Linked DNA regions of Homo sapiens: region 1 is linked to region 2. The links come from fine-mapping of genetic effects on gene expression. A gene starts in region 2. The other region holds a variant in brackets. All regions are shown on one strand. Distances are from middle to middle.

Region 1 (4,243 bases), 48 kb after region 2:
CTTTAGCTAGACTCAGAGTGCTGATTGGTGCATTTACAATCTTTTAGCTAGACACAGAGTGCTGATTGGTGCATTTACAATCCTCTAGCTAGACATAAAAGTTCTCCAAGTCCCCACCAGATTAGCTAGATACAGAGTGGTGACTGGTGCATCCACAAACCCCCAGCTAGACACAGAGTGCTGATTGGTGCATATACAATCCTCCAGCTAGACATAAAAGTTCTCCAAGTCCCCACCTGACTCAGAAGCCCAGCTGGCTTTGCCTAGTGGATCCTGTGCCTGGCCGTGGGCAGAGTTGCCCACCAGTCCCGCACTGCGTGCCCGTGTGCCTGCATTACCAAGGGTGAAGGGGCAGTAATCCAAAAGCAGTGGCTGCCAGGGGGACAGGCACAGTGGGTGGCTGTTTGTACTGGATATTGGCCATTTGCAATTTACCTGCAAATCCTTGTGGGCCTGTGCTTCAAAGGGGCCATCAAGTCACTGTGCAGTGGCGGTCAGTCACCCAGCTTTCTGACATCACAAGTTGAATGAAAAGCTTTTAGTCCTGAATCAACAGGAAGAGCTCTAAAGCCTGCAAGGGGCTCTGTCTCATTCCCAGCCCAGCTATAGAAACAGGCCTCTCAGCAGCCCTTTGGGGAGAGATTCAGTGGCACAAACAGAATTTGTGCCGTGCTGAGGGCATGGCTGGCCACTGCAGCCCCACAGGTGTCTTTCTTAGTGGGCACATGATCTCAATTAACTGGGAGGACTGTGGTTTTTTTTGGTCTGTTTTGTTTTGTTGTTGTTGTTGTTGTTGTTGTTGTTGTTTGAGACAGAGTCTCGCACTGTCACCCAGGCTGGAGTGCAGTGGTGCCATCTGGGCTCACTGCAAGCTCCGCCTCCCGGGTTCACGCCATTCTCCTGCCTCAGCCTCCCCAGTAGCTGGGACTACAGGCGCCCACCACCACGCCCGACTAATTTTTTGTATTTTTAGTAGAGACAGTGTTTCACCGTGTTAGCCAGGATGGTCGCGATCTCCTGACCTCGTGATCCGCCCACCTCAGCCTCCCAAAGTGCTGGGATTACAGGCGTGAGCCACCGTGCCCGGCCTTTTTTTTCTTTGTGGAACACATCTGTAACCTTAGAAGATGAAAAATTAATTAACCTCTGTTACCGGTGATGGAACTTTCTTCCTTAGAGTGTCCTTGATGAGGATACTTATGTAACATAACCTCAGGAAGATTTAGAACTAAGACTAGCATGCTAAACCAAAAATTTAAATCTTAGCATTGGCCGGGCATGGTGGTTCACGCCTGTAATCGCAGCACTTTGGGAGGCCGAGGCAGGCGGAACTCTTGTGGTCAGGAGTTCGAGACCAGCCTGACGAACATGGTGAAGCCACGTCTCTACTAAAAATACAAAAATTACCCAGGTGTGGTGCTGCGTGCCTGTAATCCCAGTTACTGAGGAGGCTGAGGCAGAAGAATCGCTTGAACCCGGGAGGCAGAGGTTGCAGTGAGATGAGATTGCATTACTGCACTCCAGACTGGGCTACAGAGTGAGACCCCGTTCTCATAAAAAACAAAGACAAAAAACCTTAGCATTAATATTTCTGTTCAAAGAAATAATCTAGATACATTTAGGGTTTTTGTTTTGTTTTCTGTTTTTGTTTTTGAGACAGGGTCTCACTCTGTTTCCCAGGCTGGAATGCAGTAGCTGGATCTCAGCTCACTGAAACCTCTGCCTCCCCGGCTCAAGTGATCCTCCCACCTCAGCCTCCTGAGTAGATAGGATCACAGGCGTGCGCAACCATGTCTGGCTAATTTTTAAATTTTTTGTGGAGATGAGGTCTCACTATATTGCCCAGGCTGTTCTCAAACTCCTGGGCTCAGGCAATCAGCCTCAGCCTCCCAAAGTCCTGGGATTACAAGTGTGAGTCACAGTGCCCAGCCCTAGTTTTTTAGATAAACAGATTTTTGAGAGAACTTAAGATTCATCCTATTTATAACTTGGATTTACTTGATGTATAAGAATGATTTAAATCTTCAGGAAGGTTTTGTTTATACAGATAACTGAGCGT[C/T]CTGTGTGGGAGCCGCGGGAGCTGCGTGAGGGGAGAAGAAAAGGCACACACACAATACCTTTAAGGGTAAACAAGCTTTATCCCACGTAAATGGCAATGCAGATATAATAAGCAAATGATATAATAAGGAAATTAATATAATAAGCAAATTGATATAAGTAAATGACATAATAAGCAAATTGCAATGGGAAGGGGAGAAGGGAAAAGAGATATACACATATTTACACTCACCAGACTATGGAGGATTCACCACCAGACTGGGAAGCAACAGCCTGGGCTCCAGAGTCGGCCACTCATCCATGCACAGATGAGGAGAGGTCTCATGAAGCTTCAGCGCAGCTGGGACCCTAGCTCTTTTTGTAACGAGTTGTTTGGCATGAGGTCCGGTCACGAGGGCCCTTCATTATCGGTCTCAAGGAACACAAAAAGGTCAACTTGTTTTTGCGATTGTGTGTTGTTTTTCAATAACTAATGTATAGGAATAGATTGAAATAGAGATTCCTCCGAAACAGTGCTGGATGAACGCCTCAAGGGGCTCACACAACCTGTTCAGGGACTTGGTGACCATTGTTTGTGTCCATGTTCAGTTGAGTTCAAATTTAATATTTAACTTTTCTTCCACACTGAGATACTGAAAAAGAAAATCAAACCTATTCATTTACGTTTGAAGATATAAAGTTGTAAAAAGCCCCTTAGAAGCATTTGCTAAAATCTAGATTTTCAAACAAGGTTTGTAAGCTGAATTTTATTTATACTTTTTAAATATTTTATTATTATTAAATTTTAATTTTTTGTAGACATGGGGTCTTGATATGTTGCCCATACTGGTCTCCAGCTCCTAGCCTCAAGTAATCTTCCTGTCTCGGCTGCCTAAATTGCTGGGATTACAGGTGTGAGCCACCACGCCTGGCCAATAGGTTGAATCTTAAGGTTAAGAAAGAATTAGTAGTGTTTTGAACTAGTAACTTTAATAAATAGAAACTAATTGTTTACTCCAGAAATAAACTTCCAAATAGTCTTTTCTGTGACTGAAAACCATCCTCAGGACTCAACCCAAATATGCATCAAAAGGTGAATGGATAAACAAATTGGGATCTATCTGTACAATGGAATACTACACAGCAACGAAAAGAAAGAGCAACTCATTCACAGAACTTGATGAATTTCTAAAGCATTACACTAAGCGAAGAAAGCCAGACTCAAAAGTTTCCCTGCTGTCTAATTCCATTTATACATAGACAAAACCATGGTGGGCCAGGCGTGGTGGCTCACGCCTGTGATCCCAGCACTTTAGGAGGCCGAGGTGGGCGGATCACAAGGTCAGGAGTTCGAGACCAGCCTGGCTAACATGGTAAAACCCTGTCTCTACTAAAAATACTAAAATTAGCTGGGCATGGTGGTGTGTGCCTGTAATCCCAGCTACTGGGGAGGCTGAGGCAGGGGAATGGCTTGAACCCAGGAGGTGGAGGTTGTAGTGAGCCAAGATTGTGCCACTGCACTCTAGCCTGGGTGATAGAGTAAGACTCCGTCTCAAAGCAAAAACAAAAACAAAAACAAAAAACAACCATGGTGGCAGAAACACAGAAACCAGATCAATGCTTGAGACTGGAGGAGGTGATTGGCTGCAAAGGGTTTAGAGGGAGTTTCTGGGTGATAGAAATGCTCTATATCACAATTATGAGGTGATTGCCTGAGTGTTTACACTGGCATGACTCAGCAAATTTTACATTTAACATTGGCGAATTTTGTTGTACATAAATTACACCTCGATAACACAGATTTTTAAAAATAATACTATCCTGGAGACTACCAGAACCCTCCGTATTCAACATGAGGCATGAAACAGGACCATTTTTTTGGAGAATAATGTGGGAAAGGGGAGGGGGCTGTGAGGAGAGAGGCCAAGTAATCACAGAGTCACCATGGAAACCAGGAGAGCCAGCCGGGTGCAGAAGTAGAGTAGGTTCCCCCACTCAAAGTCACCGTGATTGAATGACTCTTTTCTTTTTCTCTCTTTTTTTTTTTTTTTTTTTTTGAGACAGAGTGTCCATCTGTCCCCCAGGCTGGACTGCAGTGGCGCAATCTCGGCTCACTGCAAGCTCCACCACCCGGGTTCACACCATTCTCTTGCCTCAGCCTCCCGAGTAGCTGGGACTACAAGTGCCCGCCACCACGCCTGGCTAA
Region 2 (4,243 bases):
TTAGAAAATCTAAGCTCTAGGTTCAACCCCTTCACCTCCTACACACACTTTACATCTTTGAAGCTGAACATCCGATCTGTAAGTTGAAGTTATTTCCTGCATTAATGTACCAATCATCTTGCAGAGCAGCCAAGGATCCAATAGGTCATTGGATGCGGAAGTGACCTGGAGGCTCAAACAGCTGAATGAGCACATTATTTCGTACAAACAGAAGAGGAAGCACTGGCTGCCCGCTCTGAGGCATTTCTGAGTGAACTGGCATCAGGCAGAGCACTTTTAAGCCCCTTCTTTCCCACTAGTGAGCCCCTGAAGGGCAGGGACAGTGAATCAGAACATAGCGTCATAACACAGAGCAGGCATTTAATACCTGTTGAAGGAATCAAAAGCACAGCTTCTTTTACATCAAGTGGAAATGGGGGAAATCCTTTTAAGCATTCTGTCTGGTGAACCTCACCTGCAGAGGCTGTATGGCAGGATGAGGGCTGCGGACACTGGAGGCGTATTTGTAGGGGGCAACAGCCCGGGGAGCAGCAGCAGCAACAGCAGCGCGTGGCGCTAAGTTCTGCACAGCTGTGGGAACGCCTTAGGGAAAGAACAAATACAATTAAAGCCCATCAGTCTGGGCAAAGACCCGTCAAATCCCATCTTTCCCCCTTCTGTGTGCATCCAATACCACCTCCAGACTGGCAGCTGTCAGTCAGCCCTTGCTGGGCGGCACCAGCCCCACCAAAGTCCATAGCCAAGCGGTCCGGGCACTCAGACCCTACAACAGACCAGCAAATGCACATCAGTGTTGGCGGCAGATGTCCAACTGGCCACGTCCCACGGAAGGAGAAATTTCAAAGCACGTTTACGCAACACATTGCACAGGGGGCCACTACTACTTTCGAGGATGAGCCAAAGGATAACATACAACTCTTTCCACATCTTGGAATACAAGACATATTCTGTATACACTGTTTCCTTGTATTCCTCACCCCACCCAAAAGAACAAGCTGCCTCTGTGGTCATCCAGCTAGCAAACTTCTACAACTAACCTTTTTCACATAGGTCACCGATGAGCAAAGAATGTTAAAAGCAACTGACACACCTAGAACTCATACTGTTTCTCTGCTCCTGAAGTGGCCACCTAAGCACACAGCTAAGATTACAGAACCAGGACTCGATAAATTCGAGCCCAACAAACTGACCAACCCAGGACAGAGCCTAGTCATCCTGACTCCCTCCTCCCCAGGCCACACTTCTAAAGGCCAGTTTGCTCACCGACTCTCTGAGTGGTAGTAGGGAGGCCACGAGAGGCCGGAGCATTACCAGTTGGAGCCAGATGGCGAAGAGTTGGACGAGGCCCAGACTGGCGTATAGCACTTGGCATTCCTTGGAAGCCTGGTGAAGAGAAAAATTGCACATCATTGAGAAGTGATGTGGACCAGAACCTAGGCTGTGCCTCAGAGTGGGGAAGAAGGAAAGGCAGGGGAGACCAGGACAGGTATATCCTGGGCTGTCAATTACTGTTCCCCACCACCTACCTTGAGGTCTCCCACCTTGCTGCCAGCGTGGATTAGGCCTCATCTGTGCTAACTGGTTAGGTGTATAATATGGAGGCCTTCCCTGAGCCTGTAAGACAGAAGAATACCCAAACACCCCCTTAAGGACTGAACCCATCCTAGAGAAGTATCTCATCTCATCTCACTAACCAGGACCTAAGCTAATTATTTAAATGTTCTTTCTATTCAAGAGCTGAGGGGTCAGCTAATGGGGACTGTTTTATGCTACCACTGCCACTGTGGGTGTGTGTTTGTGACCATGGGTAAGTCCTTCATTTTTACTTGAAGGGTCCTTATTGTGACATTCTAGAACTCTAATAACGAAAAATCCCTCTCCCCAACCACTGCAGAATACTGCCAGCCGGCAGGTTCCCAAGAGCTGTGACCAAACAGCACACCCACCTGTGGGACTGCTGGCACAAAGTAGCCACCCGCTGCAGGCTGGAACTGATTTAAGATGGCATTGGCAGGAAGTGCTCTCATTCCAGCCACTCGTTGCATATACTGGTTGGTCAGGTGAGCCTTTCTCTCTTCCTTCCTCTGGGCCAGGGCAACATATAGTGGCTTGGAGCCCACAATGCGTCCATTCATCTCAGTGACTGCTTTGGTTGCTTCTTCAGGAGATGAGAAGCAGACGAAGCCAAACCCTTTGCTTCTTCCATCCTCCAGCATTACCTACAAAATGAGACCAGCTACTTAAGAAATAAGGTGTCCCTGGCTGGGTGTGATGGCTTGTGCCTGTAATCCCAGCACTTTGGAAGGCTGAGGTGGGAGGGCTGCTTGAGCTCAGGAGGTTGAGACCAGCTTGAGCAATGTAGTGAGACCTCATCTCAAAAAAACAAAGGGCCAGGCGCAGTGGCTCATGCCTGTAATCCCAGCACTTTGGGAGGCCGAGGTGGGTGGATCACGAGGTCAGGAATTCAAGACCATCCTGACCAACATGGTGCAACCCCGTCTCTACTAAAAATACAAAAATCAGCTGGGCGTGGTGGCACACACCTGTAATCCTAGCTACTCAGGAGGCTGAGGCAGGAGAACCGCTTCAACCCGGGAGACAGAGATTGCAGTGAGCCGAGATCGCGCCACTGCACTCCAGCCTGGGCGACAGAGCGAGACTCCATCTCCAAAACAAAACAAAACAAAACAAAACAAAACAAAACAAAAACACCAACCAACCAAACCAACAAAAAAAACAAAACAAACCTACAAATAGGAAAAAAAAGGATGTCCCTGGGTGGGGAGGGAACTATTCAGAAGAACCAGAAAGCCTGGGTTCTGCTGCAGTCACTGAGTCTAGGTCAGGGTTCTGGCACAGGATTTACCCCAGACCAACTAAGTCACAACCTCTAAGGTATCTAGGTGTTTTCTTTGAGTCCCCAGGTGATGCTAAAGTTCTGAAACACTATGATATGGCTAATAATAAAACCAGGAACTCAAAGATGTTTCCTGATACCTGGTGGATAGCTACTCCGGGTAACCACAAAACATCTTGAGAGTAGTACTGAGCAATTTATTTTCATATCTCATATGCTTCAAGACCTCGGTGGACAAACTCTAACAAGCTCTTACCAACGTCAGGATAACACTTTTGGAATACCACGTGTGGACAGGAGTCCTAAAATGTTCAGGTAACCAATGACTGCCACCATTAATTCAATGAGATGACCAGCTCAGAGATAGGCAGCCTAGATTCTAGTCTCACTTGCCTTCCTGAGGCTCAATTTCCAAGAAATACTCCAAACAGCTACAAAACCACAGGTCTACTGGTTCAGGCAGTCTTTTCCCACATTAAGTTCATCATTCACAAATGGCATTCTTCCTAATAGACAAGGTTATTCACTGTCTTCTCTGGTGTGACTGTCATTGTTTTATGTCTTAGTTAATGGCCCAGAGAGCCTCCTGAAGTGGAGGATAGGGAAGTAAAGAAGTGCATCACTCCATAACTCTCTACCAATGAGATGGGCCAGTAAGGTATGTGAATAAAAATGCCACACCATCATAATGAAAATGGGGACAATTCAAGGTATGGCTCTTCTGCTCTCTTAACAAATGCCAACTTGACTACTAGGCAGATAAGCAAGGATAGAAGATCACTCCTTACACTGATGAGGGCCAGTCAAGGGGGGGGTCATAGCAAAAACGAAAGGGTAAGAACTGGGCAAACCCACAGTTGGCCTCTGGCCAACTCCCTACTACAACTGATAACATTGCTTTCCACATTCCCAGGTTGGGAGCAAAGTCCACTAAGAGCCAGGGCAGGGCCACTAAGCCCTTACCAGCCCACGTGGCTTCCCTTCTCATCAACTAAAGGATTTTGTGGCATCTGGTACACCTGTTTAGCAAGACCGGCGTCTGCATCCGGCCATAACTCAAAATGTTCAGATGGCACCAGTTTCCATCCTGCTCCCAAAGTGCCAAGGACAAGCAGTACACCATCCCCATGTAGTCAGCATTCTCTTGTTCAAGGACTAAAATTCCTTATCTTTAAAATGAGGTTCCTACTTACCCTGCTAACTTAGTTGATATGATTATCAAAGAAAATCAAGCAAATGATGCACACTACGAAACATAGAAAAACCTTCCACTCCCCTTTCCTCTCTTTTTAAGACCAGGGTAGAAGTTCCCAAGCCCACCTCCAAAATCTTCAAAATACCTTCATTCTCAAGGAGAAAATGTGGCAGAGCTGTAGAGACAGGCCC

Alleles and levels. Positions count from the first base shown, and alleles are read on the strand shown. Sizes are in standard deviations (SD) of each study's normalised expression.
With allele C in place of T in region 1, the expression in visceral fat of the gene that starts at base 1,911 in region 2 is higher (small effect, 0.13 SD a copy in GTEx).

Evidence for each region. PIP is the estimated chance that this variant, and not a neighbour inherited with it, causes the effect.
Region 1: its variant is the best candidate, but not a certain one, in a credible set for the expression of PABPC4-AS1 in visceral fat (GTEx, PIP 0.53).

The regions. Positions count from the first base shown.
Region 1 is chr1:39,611,515-39,615,757 of GRCh38, forward strand. No RefSeq gene overlaps it. Among named protein-coding and RNA genes, the nearest start is that of HEYL, 26 kb to the right of the region's middle. RefSeq lists enhancers at 266-435, 1,975-2,144. The variant C/T (reference allele first, on the strand shown) is at 2,060.
Region 2 is chr1:39,563,160-39,567,402 of GRCh38, forward strand. PABPC4-AS1 (PABPC4 antisense RNA 1) reads left to right here and starts at 1,911. Exons shown (of 4, transcript NR_125979.1): 1 at 1,911-2,060. PABPC4 (poly(A) binding protein cytoplasmic 4) reads right to left here. Exons shown (of 16, transcript NM_001135653.2): 8 at 1,947-2,219; 9 at 1,527-1,614; 10 at 1,264-1,383; 11 at 677-763; 12 at 455-582. SNORA55 (small nucleolar RNA, H/ACA box 55) reads right to left here; the gene lies at 4,215-4,243.